Homo sapiens: one gene and its partners. The protein of the gene in region 2 purifies or fractionates together with the protein of the main gene of each other region. This does not show direct contact. Each region holds a gene or a part of one and is shown on either strand. Other genes may lie near its edges.

What was found. Proteins that work in one complex are often made in the same cells at the same time.
Region 1: the proteins of NDUFA10 (region 2) and DCX purify together in Homo sapiens (affinity purification with mass spectrometry; 2 studies listed by BioGRID and IntAct, with this or other methods). This does not show direct contact.
Region 3: the proteins of NDUFA10 (region 2) and DECR1 purify together in Homo sapiens (affinity purification with mass spectrometry; 3 studies listed by BioGRID and IntAct, with this or other methods). This does not show direct contact.
Region 4: the proteins of NDUFA10 (region 2) and NDUFAF7 purify together in Homo sapiens (affinity purification with mass spectrometry; 3 studies listed by BioGRID and IntAct, with this or other methods). This does not show direct contact.

What each region holds. Positions count from the first base shown.
Region 1 is NC_000023.11:111,408,558-111,413,409, reverse strand, and holds the start of DCX (neuronal migration protein doublecortin), read left to right. Parts: upstream 1-1,217; 5' UTR 1,218-1,272; exon of another isoform or gene 1,273-1,440; intron 1,441-2,263; exon of another isoform or gene 2,264-2,435; coding exon of another isoform or gene 2,436-2,656; intron 2,657-2,989; coding exon of another isoform or gene 2,990-3,011; coding exon 3,012-3,375; intron 3,376-4,852. UniProt on the Homo sapiens protein: Microtubule-associated protein required for initial steps of neuronal dispersion and cortex lamination during cerebral cortex development. May act by competing with the putative neuronal protein kinase DCLK1 in binding to a target protein.
Region 2 is NC_000002.12:240,004,208-240,009,378, reverse strand, and holds part of NDUFA10 (NADH dehydrogenase [ubiquinone] 1 alpha subcomplex subunit 10, mitochondrial isoform 1 precursor), read left to right. Parts: intron 1-2,008; coding exon 2,009-2,063; intron 2,064-4,083; coding exon 4,084-4,169; intron 4,170-5,171. UniProt on the Homo sapiens protein: Accessory subunit of the mitochondrial membrane respiratory chain NADH dehydrogenase (Complex I), that is believed not to be involved in catalysis. Complex I functions in the transfer of electrons from NADH to the respiratory chain.
Region 3 is NC_000008.11:90,018,477-90,022,811, forward strand, and holds part of DECR1 (2,4-dienoyl-CoA reductase [(3E)-enoyl-CoA-producing], mitochondrial isoform 1 precursor), read left to right. Parts: intron 1-432; coding exon 433-490; intron 491-609; coding exon 610-696; intron 697-2,432; coding exon 2,433-2,580; intron 2,581-4,335. UniProt on the Homo sapiens protein: Auxiliary enzyme of beta-oxidation. It participates in the metabolism of unsaturated fatty enoyl-CoA esters having double bonds in both even- and odd-numbered positions in mitochondria.
Region 4 is NC_000002.12:37,238,158-37,242,492, reverse strand, and holds part of NDUFAF7 (protein arginine methyltransferase NDUFAF7, mitochondrial), read right to left. Parts: intron 916-4,335; coding exon 702-915; exon of another isoform or gene 69-701; intron 1-68. UniProt on the Homo sapiens protein: Arginine methyltransferase involved in the assembly or stability of mitochondrial NADH:ubiquinone oxidoreductase complex (complex I).

The DNA of each region.
Region 1 (4,852 bases), on a different chromosome or scaffold from region 2:
GTGTTGGGGGGACTTAACTAGGTAGGTTGCACATTTGAGGCTATCCACTCAACTAACAGACAGTTCCAGGCTTTGCTGAGTCAACACCTTTCACAGAAGAAAGACCATCATATATTTTATCCCACTTGGTGGCAGCTTACAATAAAACACATGCAGAGAAAATGCTTAAATATAAAAGTTCAACAGCACTATATAAAAGGAAGGGTTAATTATACTAGGAATCAGATATAAAATAATTACTGAGCATGCTCTTAGCTCTGAGCTTCCTGGAAGCCAAGCAAAAATAGAACCATGATAGTTCAAGGCTGCTACATATTGATGCATGTAGCTTCAATTGTGAAGATGGTAGCATCCCCCTACCCCATTTAACCTCTCACCTTTCTCTTTTGTTTTATAGTTCGGCCTGATCTAATTAGTTCAATTTGGATGCTTCCTTGAGTTTTTTTTGTAACATATTTTATATAAAGAAGTCAGTTAGTGACAAATAAGCAGTTTGAGGAGAAATCTGTTAATATTTATTTTGTAGCCATCAGATTTACTTCACATAGAAAGGTCTTTGGGTTGGGTTTGAACTTCCAAACTCTCAAAGGTAAATGCCACATTAACCTTTCATTAACCAAATTCTTACACCAAGCTGATAGATTTGGGATGTCCTTTTTACTTCTATCTTCCATAATATTCTAAAATTATTTTCCCTTGTTTTGTTCCTATCCTACTTCCTCTTAGTCTACTTTGTTGACTTCATTAAAAAACAAAAAACCAGTTGTTGGATACTTGAGCTAAACTGCCTTAAAGAATCTGCAGATTTTATTTTATTTTTTTTCTCTCAAGAGGGTAAAAGGAAGAGAGCTACAATTTCTAAGAAGCCTGGCTTGGCTGTCTGAGTCTGGCCCCCAGGCAGATTAGGCCAAGGTTTTGGCCAAGTGAAATTGCCAATTTTCTAAAAGAAAGGGCTAGCACATTGCTCATTAGAGCATTCTGATTTTGTCTGCGCAATCTTTTTGCTACCCCGCAATTTCCTGTTGGTTATAAATGAAACCTTTCTAGCTGTTAATGCAGCCTGTGAATTTTTTTAAAAGCATGTAATTAATCATAGGAGGTTGGGGGGATTCACTAAGCCTGAGTTACATGGGAGAAGCTGGACAAGGCACTAGGACCTAGAAGGCATCTATCCACCCTGGCAGGAATTTCTTGCTTGGAGCTCAGACAACAAAGGCATAGAGAGATTGGTTTTCTTTCTCTCAGCATCTCCACCCAACCAGCAGAAAACCGGTGAGTGGGGCTTTTAAGTGATTTTCAAGAAGAATGTAACAGATGTCAAACGGGAAAAGCACAAGGCAAAGCCTGCTCTCTCTGTCTCTCTGTCTCCTCTTCTCCTTTTTTGCCTTATTCTATCCGATTTTTTCCCTAAGCTTCTACCTGGGATTTTCCTTTGGAAAAGTGAGTTTGATGTTCCTTTGTTTTCACTGTGATGTTAATTTAGAATAATACTACCTCTGATCCTAAAGCAAAGCAAAGCCTTACTGGCATGCCTGGGGAAATGTTTGCTGCTTGCCTTGAGGAGGTGGGGTCTCTTACCACTGCAGGTTGTCTGACAGAGACAATGCTGAGCTCAGCATAGGTCATGGTGACATTGGAAAAAAGGCGGAATTGAGCCTGGCAGACCCATTAGGCACCAGTCTTTCTTATCTCCTGTCCTCCTGGTCCCTTGCAAATATATTGATGTGGCAGTGTGTAGCAGCTGAGCCCTGCTTGCTTTGTGAGTCCTTTTATCCCCATCTGTGAGATGCATGTTAATAGTTTGGCTCGTAGGATGTCACTACATTTGCTAGCATTTGTGGCTTCAGTTGTATTGGGTTTCATGTTTTGATTGTTTGGGGTTCTTGGTGGGGGAGGGGGTTCAACAGAAGGGAGAAAAGCAAAGCCTGACAAATGACCATCTTTTCTCAGCTAATGCACCTGGGCAATATACAAGTTTGGGGTGAATTGCCTGCTGTGAGGGTAAATGTCACTTCAATTAAGGTAGAAACCCAGAACAATGAAAGGTGTGCTTCCTTCTAAAGGTCCCGTATGCTGTTCGGAGAGTCATTTGTGAATCTTTCAACAATTAAATTATTCCATTAAGAGGTGTTGCTGCATCAGTGGGGAGGGGGTGGAGCACCTGGGGGGGAAAAAAAAGGATTTTGTGAACAAATGGAACCGGGGGAAGACAGAGCTAGTAACTTGTTAAATAACTTATTTTTCTAATCCTTTTTCCCCCCAGCTTATTTCTTATGAATGTCGGATAGCTGCACCAGCTTGGTGGGGAAAGGGTTTGATGAATAGCACAAAGACACTGGCTGTTCCCTGGAGGCTGTCCCTTTAAAGGAGAATCTTAGTTTATTCTGGGGGGAGGGGATGCACACATTAGAGTAGGAAAGAGGGCTTGGAATAAAATGAAAACACTCCCCCTTCATAGTCATTGTACTGAAATGCAAAGACTGCTTCCTAAGCTGGAGATGCTAACCTTGGGTAGCTCCTTCTGTTCTCTTCAAGGGGAATTTTGTCAGGCTATGGATTCATTTACAACTGTTAGTCATGTGGGCATGTGTGAGGAAACAGATGCCAGTTTTAATGTATTTAGCCCGAAGTTCCAATTTGATAGGAGCCACTGTCAGTAAGTCTCAGGATTTTCAGCTATTTCAAAATCTCCCCTTCTCCTCTGTCTGGAACAGTGCCAAGAGTGCCTCCCTCTCTATCTCTTACTCCCAACCCCCACAACCACCAGCACCCCCGCCCAGCCCCTCCTTCTTCTCTATTAAGATCAATATTCCTGCAGGTCAGGGGCAAGCAGCAGATGGGTCACAGGCTTTTTTCAACCAGTTCTTTTCACAAGCAGCAGATTGCAGATCTGGATCTGGCTAATATTTAAAATCCCTTCTTTTTTCCTTCTCCTTGTCCCTTTTTGTTTTTGCCTCTCTTCACCCCCATCCCTTTCTCCCACGCTCAGGTCTCTGAGGTTCCACCAAAATATGGAACTTGATTTTGGACACTTTGACGAAAGAGATAAGACATCCAGGAACATGCGAGGCTCCCGGATGAATGGGTTGCCTAGCCCCACTCACAGCGCCCACTGTAGCTTCTACCGAACCAGAACCTTGCAGGCACTGAGTAATGAGAAGAAAGCCAAGAAGGTACGTTTCTACCGCAATGGGGACCGCTACTTCAAGGGGATTGTGTACGCTGTGTCCTCTGACCGTTTTCGCAGCTTTGACGCCTTGCTGGCTGACCTGACGCGATCTCTGTCTGACAACATCAACCTGCCTCAGGGAGTGCGTTACATTTACACCATTGATGGATCCAGGAAGATCGGAAGCATGGATGAACTGGAGGAAGGTAATTTAAATAGTGGGTGGTGGCCGTTGGTGGGAGGTGGCATCATTGGTTATGGTTACATTCTTCGGTTGCTTTGAAAAAAAATTAGGCAATGTATTTTTCAAAACACCGGGTTGATTGATGCTCAAATTTCTAATGCTATAGACATCAACAGAACCATTAGCAATCACCCTTCAGTCTCTGCTGAGGTTGAAGTGTGAATGGTGGTGATCATGCATTGTGCTTATCTGCCAGGGTATAAAAAGGAAAATCTTAATTGTAGCATTTACTCTAGATTTTGTTCATAATTAACTCTGAGTAGCACTATTGAGGCAGAGCATGAAATCATTAAGGGTATAACGAGGAAGGACATTTGGTTGGGTTAACAGAGAAAATATTATGCCCAAATTTTCTTTGAACTGCTGAGAAATTATTTGTGAATTGCAACTCATTGGAAATATGCACCCTAAGAGCAGGATTTCCTGGACATATTCACAGAGGATTATTCTTTTAGGTAAGTGGTCGCGGCTCAGCTGTTGCTTCTAAAAAGCCTACTTTAGGGTGTGTCCCTAAGGCTGAGGTCATTGGGAGAAATACCAAAGAAAGCTGTAGGTATGTCTGGTATTTTAATAAAGACCATTCCTATTAGAATAGGATTTGACTCACTATACCTAAATCCCCTTATAACCTCTATAGATTTTTGTGTGGCAACTAAATTTTCTGAGTAGATTGCCAAAAATCCCAACAACCTGTGTACCCACCTCAAAATAGGGAAAATCCTACCTCTTACCAGAACTTACCCAGCCATAGAGTCTTCTTTGTGGTCATTTAGAAAATAGATCTTGGGTCACATTTTTAACATTCTATATTATCAAATCAATTATACTGAGGATGCTTCCCTATTTTAAAATTGGTGGATATAACACATGTGATCAATTTGACCTAATACAGTGCTTTAAAGAACAGCTTCAAGGAGTGGTGATAATTAATGTGTTCCTCCTCAAGCCCCTCCCCCATTATCCAGCCCTCTCTCCTCACTCCTTTCATTCCCTGAGCAAAGGTGAGTTTAAAGCAGGCAGATCTCTAGAGTAACCAAATTATGAAATAACTAACAAGGAAGGAGAAATAGCACCTTAAAGAATTTGATGTGGGAAAAACCTGCCTCTGCTTCACTGCTTCTAAGTTTCTTGTGTTCCTAGACAAAGGAGAATGAGGGTTTCCTTTGTACAAGACACTAGTTCTCTCAAATAGCTGCTGTTGCCCAAGTTGTCAGGCAAAGTGATTGGGACCAGTTACTTATAAAAGACAGTGTCCATATTGTTGCTGCATCTGAGTCTCAAGGTTCAAGTTCGACTTCCTTCCTTTCTTTCTTTCTTTCTTTCTTTCTTTCTTTCTTTCTTTCTTTCTTTCTTTCTTTCTTTCTCTTTTCTTTCTTTCTTTCTTCCTTTCTTTCTTTCACAGAGTTTCGCTCTTGTTGCCCAGGCTGGAGTGCAATGGC
Region 2 (5,171 bases):
TTCCCGCGTTCAACATATACTTATTTACTCAGCTCCAACACTGCTAGCTCCCAGTGTCAGTGTTAGCTGAGACACAGAGGTACACAAGACAGAGTAGGGAAGGCCTTTCTGAGAAAGAATCGTCACCTCTGAGATTTCAGAGACAAGAAGAGGAGCACTGAGTGACCAGCCTGACATGTAGCGAGTTTTGTAACTGTCTTTATTGTTTCAGATTGTTCTAAGGTGGGTGAGGAGCTGGGGAGGCTCTGGAAGTATTGAAATAACTTGGGGGTTCAGTAATACAGCTTGTGGCTCTCCTCGGCCCTGAGCTACCTATAGGAATAACCACCATTGAGGTTGCACGTGAACTGCTGGCCCAGCCCTTTATGGGGGTTTCCTCCAGATCCCTGACTCCACACTTGATACCTTCTTATTTTAGGCCTCCTTTCACAAGGCAGTGGGAATGAGAGGCAGGTGTGACTGGACGGAGGCGGTTTTATTTGTCTGTTGCCGAGGTTGTTAGCATGCTGAATGGAGGCGCACAGAAGATAGAAAATGGACTCTCCAGGTTGCTCTCATCAGGTAGTTTGGGGTCTGGAGCTCATTAAGGGCAGGAGCCCTGTCTTCCCCACCTTCCATACCCCACACAGCACCTGGCTCCTGGTGGGGCTTCAGCTAATGTCTGTTCAGTTATGTGTGTTGAACGAAACTGTCACATCGTCCTGATCTCTCATGACCACTCTTGTGCAAATATGTCAAATAGTTTGTGACCTTTCATATTGCTGTGTGAGAACAAATAATGTTTCTGTGCCAGCCCTGTTCATCAGGGATGTTTAAGACCTCTGTCTCCTATACACTTCAGTTGAATATTCACTTAGGTGACTTGCAGAGGGAATTATTCTCCTTTGTCACTTTGTGCCTTTCTCTTCGTATTAACAATGGGTAGCTGTAGAGGTTCAGGAAGCAATACAGCAAGTCCTGTAATTAGTGTGGCCTTTTCCTTGCCAGCCCTAATGGCAAATGCAGTAAGTTACTTTCCTCACTATGGATTTATTGTTCATTCTGCTTGCAGTTTCTGACCATTTATGTTGATCTTAAGGGTGCTGTGAGGAGTGCAGTGATCTCGTTGCAGTAAGAATCTGTTATCCAGTTGTATGACTCTGAATTGTGAGTTATAGACTTGTGTGGAACAGATGTGTTACTGAGTGATTGTAGAGCTTGAAGACTTTTTTCTTTTTCCTACACTTTGGAAGTGATGTGAGTCAGTAATGATGAGACTTAATAAAATACAAGCACTTTACCTGTACTACGTAATTTAATCAACCAGTGGTCTGTTGAAGATGGTCAGCAGAGTTGGTGAAGTTTGTTTGGTACCATTGTAGGGGTCAGATGCTGATTTCAGTATGAGAATAAATAGCTTGTACATTCTTGGAGTATTTACTTACCCTGTATGTTTACATCCTAAATGTGTGGAGGGTGCTCTGGTGTAAAGATGCCCTCTGTGCCTGTGCTCATTTAGGCCCTGCTGTGGAGGGTGCTGTGGTGTAAAGATGCCCTCTGCCTGTGCTCGGTTAGGCCCTGGGCTGTGGAGGGTGCTCTGGTGTAAAGATGCCTTCTGCCTGTGCTCGGTTAGGCCCTGGGCTTCGTTGTCCTTCCGTGCAGCGGGCACTGCCTTTGGCGATGGTATGTGCAGCTGCTGACATGGCTCATGTACCTTGCTCCTGTGGACAGTGATGGCTGTGGTCTGTCACGCCCTTGGCTTGGGGGCAGTGTAGTCAGGAGAAGGGAAACGAGGAAATGGTCCTGCTGTTGTCACTGTCAAGCCAGCCATGAGAACATTCTGGCTTTTAACATGTCCTCCTGAACCAGTCAAGCTCTAATGCACCCTCACATGCCCAGCACAATGCCCAGTGCAGAGAATGTGAGGTTTTAAATTTGAGCAGGAGACTTTAGCGGTATGTATTCATTTGTACATTTAACTTCAGCTTGGAAAAGTTTACACTGAATTTCATCTTGTTTTTTCTTACAGTGAAAAATGTGAGGTTTTACAATATTCTGCAAGGGAAGCTCAAGATTCAAAAAAGGTAAGAAAATGGTTGAAAAGTTGAAAGTTATTCCTACATTTGATTCATGTGTAAGGTTCTTGCAAATCAGATCGTCAGTTAGATTCCCACTGGTCTTAACAAACATCACTGTTTTATCACCTGAAAGCAGTGCCAGTCAAACCCATCATCACACTCCCCTGGCCATGAGGTTTCGAGTTTCTTTCAAGTAATTCGGTTTCTACGATCTGAAAATTACAGATGTCACAGAATCTTGGGTCATCCACTCTACCATTTTTATTAAAGAGATGGAAAATTGAAAGTTGGATTAGTTAATGGGAAAGATTTACATGTAAAGATAACAGTTTTCCTTAAATTCGTGTGTTTTGTGAAAGTCTAGTAAATCTTGGTGTAGTTTTCAGGGAACTTTATGAATAACAGCCAGACAAACATTAAAACATCTGAAGAAGAATAACGAAAGAACATTTGCCCTCTCACATACAAAAACAAACTATACGATTGTAGTAAGGAGAGCATTGTGGTGTTAATGCAAGAATTAATAAAGAGCTTAATGGAACAAAACAAGAGTCCAGAAACATGTATGCACCTGTGTGTAAGTATCTTCAGTTTGGCAAAGTTAGTTCCTTAAAGGATAATTACAAAAATGAAGTAGAGGAAAATTGTTTCCTAAATGGTACTGAGGCAACTGAGCATCCATTTGTTAAAAAACAAGTTTTTTATTTTGTATTTTATATATTAAGCATAAATTACTAAAAACAAAACGAGGTGTAACAATTCTAGAAGAAAATACAAGTTTCAGGATCTGGTCTTGAAGTGTGAGTGGTGCCCGTGTAACAGAGAAGCTTTGCATAGTTGGCTGCTGGGGTGACAAGCGTGCTTCAGTTGCCTCTCAGCATTGGGAGGGTGAGAAGAGGGAGGTTGACTGAGCTTTTCTGCACAGAGAGTAGCATTCTCCTTGCAGAGGGAAGCCCTGCATTCTCGCCCAGGCTCTCCTACTACCAGTTGTAAAGTTCTTTTGAGACCTTGGTTTATTCTACTCAGACTGATTAAATTACATTTCATTTTCTCCTCCGCCTTCTGTTTCTGTTTTTAGAGTATTTATATACCTTTGAGAGACTGTTTAGGTGGCATGTATCTTAGAAGAAGAATAATACGTTTTGTCTCCAATACTATGTTATTTGAGTTCATTTTTGAATTTACTCAAATTCCCGAAACTAAAGAGGGTTCATGAGTTTGGCCTGTTGTGAGGAGAGAATGCGTATGGAAAGATTACTCCTCTGGAAAGTCAGACTGTGTAGACAGCCAGCCTTGAGGCCGGGCACCTAGATCATTAGGTCTCTCTAGGTAATGGGTTTGTATCTTATTCTTTTGTCATTTTGAGGGGCTAGGTTTTGCCTTTTAGAAGGAACTTACTTGGGAAGAAATGAGTAGCCTGTCCTGAAGGCTGATTTTTCTCCCCTAGTCTTCATTGTTCTCACCTGTCCTTTTCTCCCAGCCTGCAGGGTAATGTCTGTCCTACTTGATCCCTGAGTGTTAGCTAGGCAAGGCCATACTGTGATGCAACACTCAACCCCACCATTTCATTAAAGGTCAGCCAGCTTCACTTCCATTCTGACTGTTACGGTGTGATTCTTCCTGCCAAATATTCATAGCTTATAATGTATTAAAATGTTACCTCTTGGCCAGCCATGGTGGCTCACGTCTATAATCCCAGCACTTTGGGAGGCTGAGGCAGGAGGATCGCTTGAGCCCAGGAGTTTGAGACCAGCCTGGGCAACGTGGTGAGACCCCATCTCTACTAAAAATACAAACATCAGCCAGGTGTGGTGGCATATGCCTGTAGTCCCAGCAACTCGGGAGGCTGAGGTGCTGAGGTGGGAGGATTGCTTGAGCCCAGCAGGCCAAGGCTGCAGTGTGCTGTGATTGTGCCACTACTTTCCAGCCTGGATGATAGAGCCGGACCCTGTCTCAAAAAAAAGTTATTTCATTTAAATTTCTAAAATGGGGTTCTCTGTTTAAATTGGAATTTTTCCTGTCTTAGGTGGTAGAGGACATTGAATACCTGAAGTTCGATAAAGGGCCGTGGCTCAAGCAGGACAATCGCACTTTATACCACCTGCGATTACTGTAAGTGCATCTGTGTGGGGGCTGCTGCATGTCTGGGGTCTACTTGCATGATGGGGAAACTTAGGGAAGTTTGAAATAATTATGTTTCAAGTTAGGTGTTAGCAGCACCAACCCAATACTTAGAGGTATTTTTTCTTCCAAACAGCTCCTGAATCCCCTGGTCTGATACTTAATTTATTGAGTGCCATTATTAATTTAACAGGCATTTTGCTTCCACTATGTGCAACACCGTTCCAGATTTAAGAGATATAGTGTCAGATAAAATTCTTGATGTCTTTGAAAATGTGTTTTAGTAGGTGAGACAGAGTAAACAAATAGATAAAACTGCGTCAGGTCACAAAGGCCAGGGAGAGAAGTAACCCTGAGTAACAGGGTGGTGAGTAGCTAGGGGTGACAAAGGGCCTCTCTCGGGATGAGGCCTAAGTGAGGCCAGGATTGGGTCCTGTGGGCCGTGGGGTGAGCAGAGGGCAGGGGCTTGGCAGGTGCAGAGGCTCTTCAGGCAGGAGTGTGGTGGGAAGGTGCGCCCAGCAGCCAAGCCAGTGTGGCCAGAAAAAGTGTGGGGAGGGGAGGCCACAGCGGAATGGAGCAGGACTAGGAGAGGAGGCCATGGCGGAATGGGGCAGGACTAGGAGGGGAGGCCGCGGTGGAAGAGGGCAGGACTAGGAAGGGAGGCCACTGCAGAAGGGGGTAGGACTAGGAGGGGAGGCCACAGCAGAAGGCGGATAGGTCTTGGTGCGTTTGGTGGGTTTTCTTCTGATGAGATGAGATGCCGTTTGGGGGTTTGAAGCAGAGGAGTAATACGATATGACTTATATCCATTCAGCTATTGTGTGGATTCTTTGGTATCTATTAAATGAAAAACAAAAACCATACCGATTAGGTAAGGTTGAAAAAAGCTGTCTTCATCTGCACCACTCTATTGAAACTGCTCCTGCCAAGGAGACGGCCTCGCCATTCCAGATGCGGCAGACCCTTGTCTGTCTTCATGCTGCTCCCTGGCCC
Region 3 (4,335 bases), on a different chromosome or scaffold from region 2:
ATGTTTTTAAGAGTTTAAATATATTATTTTCATTTTAATAATAATTTCTATTCATAGTTTTTTTTGTAGAATGTGAGACTGCATGAATAAATGTAGTCTCTTTGAACCCATAAATTTAGTACAAAACCTACTAACATTATACCATGAATATATTTTCTTTGTAAACCTGGCTTATCAAGGAAATAATTTAAATCTGTGAGTAGATAATGTTAAAGTAAACTGGTTTAAAAGTGACTAATTCAATAAGTTAGTATCAAATATATAAAAATGATCTAAATTTGACTTTTAGAAAAAATTCACATTGATTTTTGTATATAAATAACATCTATACTTTCTCAGAAATGCTTTTCTTTAAGCTATGGATTCTCTGTATTCTTCAATTTATGAAATTGAAAAATATAATATGAAGTCATACAAGGTGTTTATTTCTAGGAAGATGGATGTTTTGAAAGCTACCGCAGAACAAATTTCTTCTCAAACTGGAAATAAGGTACATTAAAAATCAGTTATTTAATTTAGATTTAGGAATTATAACATGTTCAAATAATTTGTTCATGCGTTTGGTTTAAGAAAGCTGGAAAATGTCATATTCTTTTTGTTATTTTGCAGGTTCATGCAATTCAGTGTGATGTGAGGGATCCTGATATGGTTCAAAACACTGTGTCAGAACTGATCAAAGTTGCAGGACATCCTAATGTAAGTGTAGCAATGATGAAGCCAAAGTGCAAGACACTTGATGTTGATAACACCCACCAACATGTACAAAGGAAATAAAATATTGATACTGATGTAGGACAGGCAAGCCCGAATCTGGGGCTTAGCCTGGGAAGGTTCTTGGCTTCACCCAGGAAAGAATTCAAGGATGAGCCGGTGGTAGAAGAGAACAGCTTTATTGAAGCAGCAGCAGTGGAATGGATCTGTGACTGTTCCTTCAGAGCAGGGCAACACCATAGTCAATGTGCTGGGCATAGCAGTTGAGAGGCAGTTTTATAGTCGTATTTATACCCACTTTTAATTGCCTGCAAATTAATTAGGTTTATGCAGAAATTTCTAGAAAAGGGTTGGTAACTTCTGAGTTATCAGTTCGTTGCCATGGAAAGGGCAGTAACTTGCTGACATTGCCATGGCAATGGTAAACAAACATGGTGCATTGGTGGGTATGTCTAAAGAGGGGGTGCTTTCATCCAGGACCTGGTTTAACTAGTCCTCATTCTGGTCCTGTGATGGAACTCTGCCTCCAGAGTTAGGCCTCCTCCTACCTCAATATGAGCAAGTGCTGTGTTGAGAAGCACCTATTTTCCATCCCTAGGAAAATGCCAGTTCTGCTAAAGCAAAGAACAGAGTAGGAAGACTGCTACACAACTTCCTTTCAGGAATACTTAAAGAATCCATTTATGATTGATCAGAAAACAAACTTGATTTCACTTTATTTAATAAGATTATGAAATAACAAGAGCAGTTATCCAAGAGTACAGCATTGAGTTTAAATGATTGATGCTTTTTGCTTCTCCTAGTAACTTTTGATTGTCTTCCTCAGTGGAGGAGAACGATATAAACATGAAAAACTATAAGAAATTCAAAATTTCTCCTTTTAAGACCTGAAATATGCATGAATATTTTGCTGTTGCTTGGTACATTTATCGGAGAGAAGCCGTTTCTTCCAGTAGTCTCAAAGATAGCACTTTTCTATGTTAAAGGTATTTTCAGAACCAGTAACACTGAATCTCCTGTAGAACTAGCCAGAATCTTTACTGATGGTAAATAGATCATCAACCACAAGCTGCATTGGTTAAGTTAAACTAAAATGACACCAGAAACAAAAAGCCATTTCTTGAGATTCTTTGAAATAAAATGCAGTCACATGGTAAATATGTTTAATCTGTATTAATTTTCTTTTTTTTAACTTTTAAAATTTTATTCATTTATTTTGAGACAGAGTCTTGCTCTGTCACTCAGGTTGGAGTGCAAGTGGCACAATCACGGCTCAGTGGAGCCTTGACCTCCTGGGTTCAAGCGATACTCCCACCTCAGCCTCCCAAGTAGCTGGGAATACAGGCACGTGCCACCACACCCAGCTAATTTTTAAAACAAAATTTTTGTAGAGATGACGTCTCGCTTTGTTGCCCAGCCTGGTCTTGAACTCATCCCAAAGTGCTGGGATTACAGGCATGAGCCACTGCACTCAGCCTTAGTTTTCTTAATAAGAGAATCTACCCTAATTTAAAGACGGCTTAGGATTCTGAAATTTGGTAACTAACGTAGGAGGTTTTCACAGACTCAGACTACCAAATCTCATGGTATTGTTTCGTAGGTAGCTGTGGACTTCAACTTTATTGTATTATTTCTATTAATACATTTCAGAAAAAAAACCCTGCAGGGAAAATGTTTTTCCTCATCTAAAGTTTCTGTAACTTGCCTTGTTCATTTATTAGATTGTGATAAACAATGCAGCAGGGAATTTTATTTCTCCTACTGAAAGACTTTCTCCTAATGCTTGGAAAACCATAACTGACATAGTTCTAAATGGCACAGCCTTCGTGACACTAGAAATTGGAAAACAACTAATTAAAGCACAGAAAGGTATGTTTATTTGCTTTTCTCATATTTATTTGGCTTCTGTGTGTGCAAGGTTCTGTGGTAAGCTCTGTGATACTTTAAAAGTCAATGAGACAGTCTACACTTGTACAACTCACAGTGTAATGGAGAAAAATGATATTTAAATAATTATCATATGTTACAATTTGAGCAGTAATAAATATATGTTTCAAGTGCATTGGCAATCCAGAGACAGGAATGACTAACTCTCCCTAGGGTCAGTGATCAGGTTGAGGAACAAGATGCAACTTAAGCTGAAAGTTCAAAGATCTAGATGTGGAGAAAGAGGAGGGAAAGGACATGTGAATGTCAATGGATAGAGGCCTGGTGGAGAGGAGGACATAAGTACATAGGGAATGATGAAAACTTTGATGTCATTAGAGATGGGGAAAGGAATAGGAAATGATTTTGGGAAGGTGGGTTGGAGTGTAATTGGGAGAGTTCTCAATACCAAAATAAGGAGTTTAATGTTAATTCTGAAAGAAATAGGAAGTATTTTTGTATAGATTTCCATTGAAGGTGGAACAAAGAATGCGACTTGATTGGAAAGGTTAGTGACAACAAGATGGATGATAAAAGGAGTGCCATTCAGGAGGATTTGATTTTTCTTTTAGCAGGTGGCTAGATTGCATGGGAGATAAAGTAGAAGACATTTAGAAGACAATAAGATCAACAGGCCTTATTGATTTGATGAGAGTATTTTTAGATGGGATGAAGAGTCTGGATGATAATACCAATGAGATTAAGAACACTGGAGGGAAAATAGATTTAGAAAGAACTTACTAGGAGAACATTTTTGTTAGTATTATGAATGAATTACTTTATAAAAGTTCATATGTACATGGATAGCAAACATGTCTAATGTATATATGTGTGTATATTCATATATATCTAGAACCAGCGTACATTTATTCACCTGACAGACACTTACTAATGACTTTTGGGTAGCAGGCCCTATACTCATGCTCAAAGCACAGAGGTGGACAAGACCCTGTCCCTGAATAATTTGGGGAACTTGAAGGGTGCGGGTATTTTCTCAGAGAAGGTGGAGAGTATTTTAAACAAGGAAAATGAGGAAGCGTTCTCATGCTCCTCAGAGGATGTCCTTTGAGGGTTGAGGGGAGGAAAGAGGGCATGGAGCTGGCTAGGTTCCTCCCTCTGTTCAGAAACCTTTGCCTTATAAGGTTCAATTTCTTCTTTTGTGCAGCGCAGGTGATCCTAGAACCAGCTTGAGATACGCTGTAGGAACAGAGAGATGCTACAGAGGCACTAGCTCTGTGTGTGTGTGTGTCTGCTCACATACATACACTAATAGCTTCCATCCTTTCTATGCACTCATTGAAATTGAAATTCCTGGTTACTCATTTCCATGATGGCAGAATGGATGTGATTTATAATTGGATTTTGGATAAGTGTTTTATTTGATGTTTTTTTTTTCAGTGAGGGGCAGGAAGATGGATAAGAGTGGGAAGGGGGGACAGGGAAGAGTGTGACTCCTCTCTCTTCCCTTCTCTGTCCGAGGAACCTTGATCTCTGTATCTCTCCTGTGTCTCTGCCTCTGTCTGATTTTCTCTCGCCCTACCCCTTGCTGATATCTCCATTTCATTCTCTACTGCTCTGCCTCTGTCAGCTCCTCATTTTTGGTTCTCTGTTTCTCTCTTCATCTGTCTCTTTCGTTTCTTTGTCCTTCTTTGCCTCTTTGTCTCTTATTTCTTCCCTCGCTCATCTCTGTGACCCTCA
Region 4 (4,335 bases), about 200 Mb from region 2:
CTGCAGAACATAGAACAATTATTACTATTCTTATTTTACACATAAATGGGGTCAGAAAATGGAAATACCTGAAATAGCAGTTAAAGCTTTTATTCATCACAAGGCTTGAAAGAAATTAGAAGTCAGAGTTGTTAGCTGGAAGGGAATTTGATTTCATAAAATCGGGCTTCTCAGCCTGAGAAGGCTGAGGCAGGAATGGCTTGAGATCCCTTACCCAAGATCGTACCCCCACTTTGGCTTTGAGTCAAGACTCAAACTAGTCAATACTAGTCAGTATTCCTGACTAGTACAGGGATTTTCCCCCACACCTTGCTTGTCTTTAGGCAAGTAAGGATTTTTTAAAAGACTCTATAACTGAACTAAACCCACCTACTAACACTGCTTCCATCAGCCCCAGCTGCCTTGGGCTGCTCCGTCATCGGTACAACCCTAGCTATAGGGAAATACTCAAAAGTACAAAGGAGATTTACATTTTGTTTGGGATTTTACAAAGCTTCATGAAATAAACTACTACTTAATGTCAGGCAACTTTATTTTCTATTAAGATGCTCTTTTCTAGAAAAAAGTAGGCTACTCTCTATGGATAAGGGACTTGGCAGCAGTAACTCAATCTATTATATTGCTGTAAAAAGTTACAGTCCCATCAATACTGTGAGGGTTGTGATCAAAATTCTTTCATTAATCCACATAAAGGTAATTACCTTTTGGAACATCGTGCAGATCTCGGTACCAGGAAATTGGAATCCCAGACTTAGTGACACCTTTCATATACACTGGGGATCCAGCATTTCGCTCTAACGGGACCTTCTCTTTAGTCAGTGTCAATGCTTGAATCTCACTTAATTTTTGGCTTACCTCTACCAGATGTACTGAAATGTCACAATTTTTCAGCACAGATCCAAGTTGAGTGAACACCTAAATACCAAAAGAAGAAAAAAAAATACAATGTGTTAAGTAGGTTTTAAGTTTCCTAATCATTTACATCAATGATTTAGTCATGTCACAATAGAGGTAATATTTCAGAGAGATGTGTTCCTTACCCAAGCCACTCTCCAGCAGTCTATAAGAATCCTAACCTACTAGTTATTAAGCATAATCTAAATAAGAAATGAACAATGCACAATTTGGTTTCCTAATGATAAATTATGATTAACAAATGAAAATAAAAGATTTGGCATCTGATAAAAACAATGATTCAGATTATGGAGTCTAAAAAAAGACCAAGGAAATAAAATGTACACAGCCTTGATTTGATAACATCTCTAGGTCTAGGAAGTAATCTCATCTTTGAGATGATGAGAACTCTAACCTCAAAGAACCAAATCTGAATGGTACTGAAAACCTGACTGCTTAACTCGGGGGTCTGCCACATTTTCAATCTATATTTAGCTACACATTTTTTCACTGTTGTAAACATGCAAGGGAAAAAGGAAAATACTAATATTTTACCAATCTTTTAAGGCTAAAAAATCAATAGCAAAAGCATAAAGTGTATCAACATTATTTTTCATTTGAATTTAATTTCTACTGGTGATCTGCCTCCAATTAATACTTTTGAGATATGAATATGCACATCCAGACTGATAATATGAACAAGATGATTTTTCCAAATTTAGTTTTGAGATCGAAATACAAATGGAAAAACTTCCCAGGAGAAATTCCTTCAGAAGGTAACATCAAAAATAAAACAGGTCTGACACTTCTCTGGCTATTTGCTTTACAACCCTTTAAATTCTTTGGCTTTTAGGACTTCTTATGACTCAGTCTGGAAAAGCATCCTTCATACATTTTAAGGGCTCTGGAATCAACTTTTAAAGTACTTGAACAAGAGAATATGATTTGAGGTCCTTATTAAATATTTTATATTCAAATGACCTTGCTGAAAAACATAAAATAGAGCCCTGGAAATTTAAATTCGTGATTTTGTTTTCTTTCTTCACCCAAATAATCAAGATTCTTATTTGTCATATGTTTATATATTTTATATATTTTTTAAATCCTTTAATTTCTAATTTAAAGCAAAAACCATAAAGCATCAAGAAATTTAAATTTATATTGAGTATGTGTTGGTGTTTTTTGGTTTTTTTTTTGAGACAGGGTCTCACTTTGTTACTCAGAGGCATAATCACAGCTCACTGCAGCCTCAACCTCCTGGGCTCAAGCAATCCTCCCATCTCAGCCCCTCAACTAGCTTCGACCACAGACGCATGCTACCACGACTGGGTAATTTTTGTATTTTTTGTAGAGATGGAGTTTCACCGTATTGCCCAAGCTGATCTTGAACTTTGGGAGCCTCGAACTCCCAAAGTGCTGCGATTACAGGCATGGGCCACTGCGCCCAGCCATGTTTGTTTTTTACATTGAATTGTCAAGTACATATAAAATAAACTCAAAAACACTAATGAGTTCCAAAATACTAAAAACTACAAAAGTTTAATAAATACTATTACTTATCAGGTACTATAAACAACTGTCCTCCTTTTTAATGTTTTCATAAAATAGTACGTAGACTGATAGAAACAATGATACAAGAGAGAATATCTACCATAAATGGGACATGACCTTATCTCCAAAGCCCCTGTGGACTCCCTCTACCCTTGGAAGTCACCACCATTCTGAATCTTGAGTTAATAACACCCTGACTTTTCTTTATAAATGTTACTAAATATATTTTTATCACCAAATACATATTGTTTAATGTTGACTATTTTTTGGATTTTATATAAATACAATCATATGATACGAACTCTTGCAAACTGCTACTTTCACACATCTTGTTTCATGTTGAACACTGTTATATTCCACTGTGATTTCACGCATTCTTGCAGTACTTCGTATTCCACTGTATGACTATACCACAATTAACTGATTCATTTACCCCCCGATGGGCATTTGTGCTGTTATTTTCCGCTATTTTATACAATGCTGCTATCTTCTTGTATGTGTCTCCTGGTACACATATACACTAGTTTCTCTAGGGTATATCACTAGCAGTAAAATTGCTGGGTCATACAATATAAGAAACTTTGATGTTAATAGATAATGGCCAATAGCTTTTCAAAAAGGTTGTACAAGGCTGGGTACGGGGGCTCATGCCTGTAATCCCAGCACTCTGGGAGGCCGAGGCAGGCGGACCACTTCAAGCCAAGAGTTCAAGATCAGCCTGGCCAGCATGGTAAAACCCCTTCTCTACTAAAAATAAAAAAATTAGCCGGGTGTAGTGATCCACGCCTATTATCCCTGCTACTCAAGAGGCTGAGGGACAAGAATCGCCTGAACCTGGGAGGCAGAGGTTGCAGTGAGCCAAGATCGTACCACTGCACTCCAGCCTGAGTGACAAAGTGAGACTGTGTCTCAAAAAAAAAAAAAAAAAAGAGAAAGAAAAAAGGATGTACTAAATTATAGTTTTACAAGCAGTATATGAGAGTTGCCATTGATCCACAAATCCACATCTTCACCAATACTTGGTGTTGACAGACTTTTAGCTTTTTTTTCTAATCTGGCAAGGGTTACAGTAGTATCTCATTGTGATTTTAATTTTCATCTTCCTGACTACCAATGTGACTAATCTTTTTTTTTTTTTTTTTGCTTTTTTAGCCGTTTGTATTTTCCTCTTTTATGAATGGACTTGTTCACATCTTTGGCCTGATTTTTCTCAAGTTATCTGTCTTCTTACTGACCTAAAGGAGTTATTTAAATAATTCTAACTACTAGTTCTCTGTTGGTTACGTGTTACAAATAACTTCTCCCACTCTGTGGCTTGTCTAATCACTCTCTTAATGGGGTCTCTGAAGAACAAAAAGCTGCTAGTTTATTTGTAGAGCAAGAAGTTTTTAATTTTAATGTAAGAAATGAAATATTAATCTTTTGCTTTATGCCTTCTGCTTTTTTTTTTTTTAATATAAAAAGAGACGAGGTCTTGCTTTGTTGGCCAGGTTGGTCTTGAACTCTTGGCCTCAAGCAATCCTCCCACCTTGGCCCCCCAAAGTGCTACGATTACAGGCATGAGCCACTTTGCCCAGCCTAAACTTTTTTTTTTTTTTGAGACGGAGTCTCGCTCTGTCACCAGGCTGGAGTGCAATGGCGCAATCTCAGCTCTGCAATCAATCACTGCAGCAATCACTGCAACCTCTGCCTCCTGGGTTCAAGCGATTCCCTGCCTCAGCCTCCTGAGTAGCTGGATTACAGATGCACACCACCATGCCCAGCTAATTTTTGTATTTTTACTAGAGACGGGGTTTCACTATGTTGGTCAGGCTGGTCTCGAACTCCTGACCTTGTGATCTGCCCACCTTGGCCTCTCAAAGTGCTAGGATTGAGCCACCATGCCTGGCC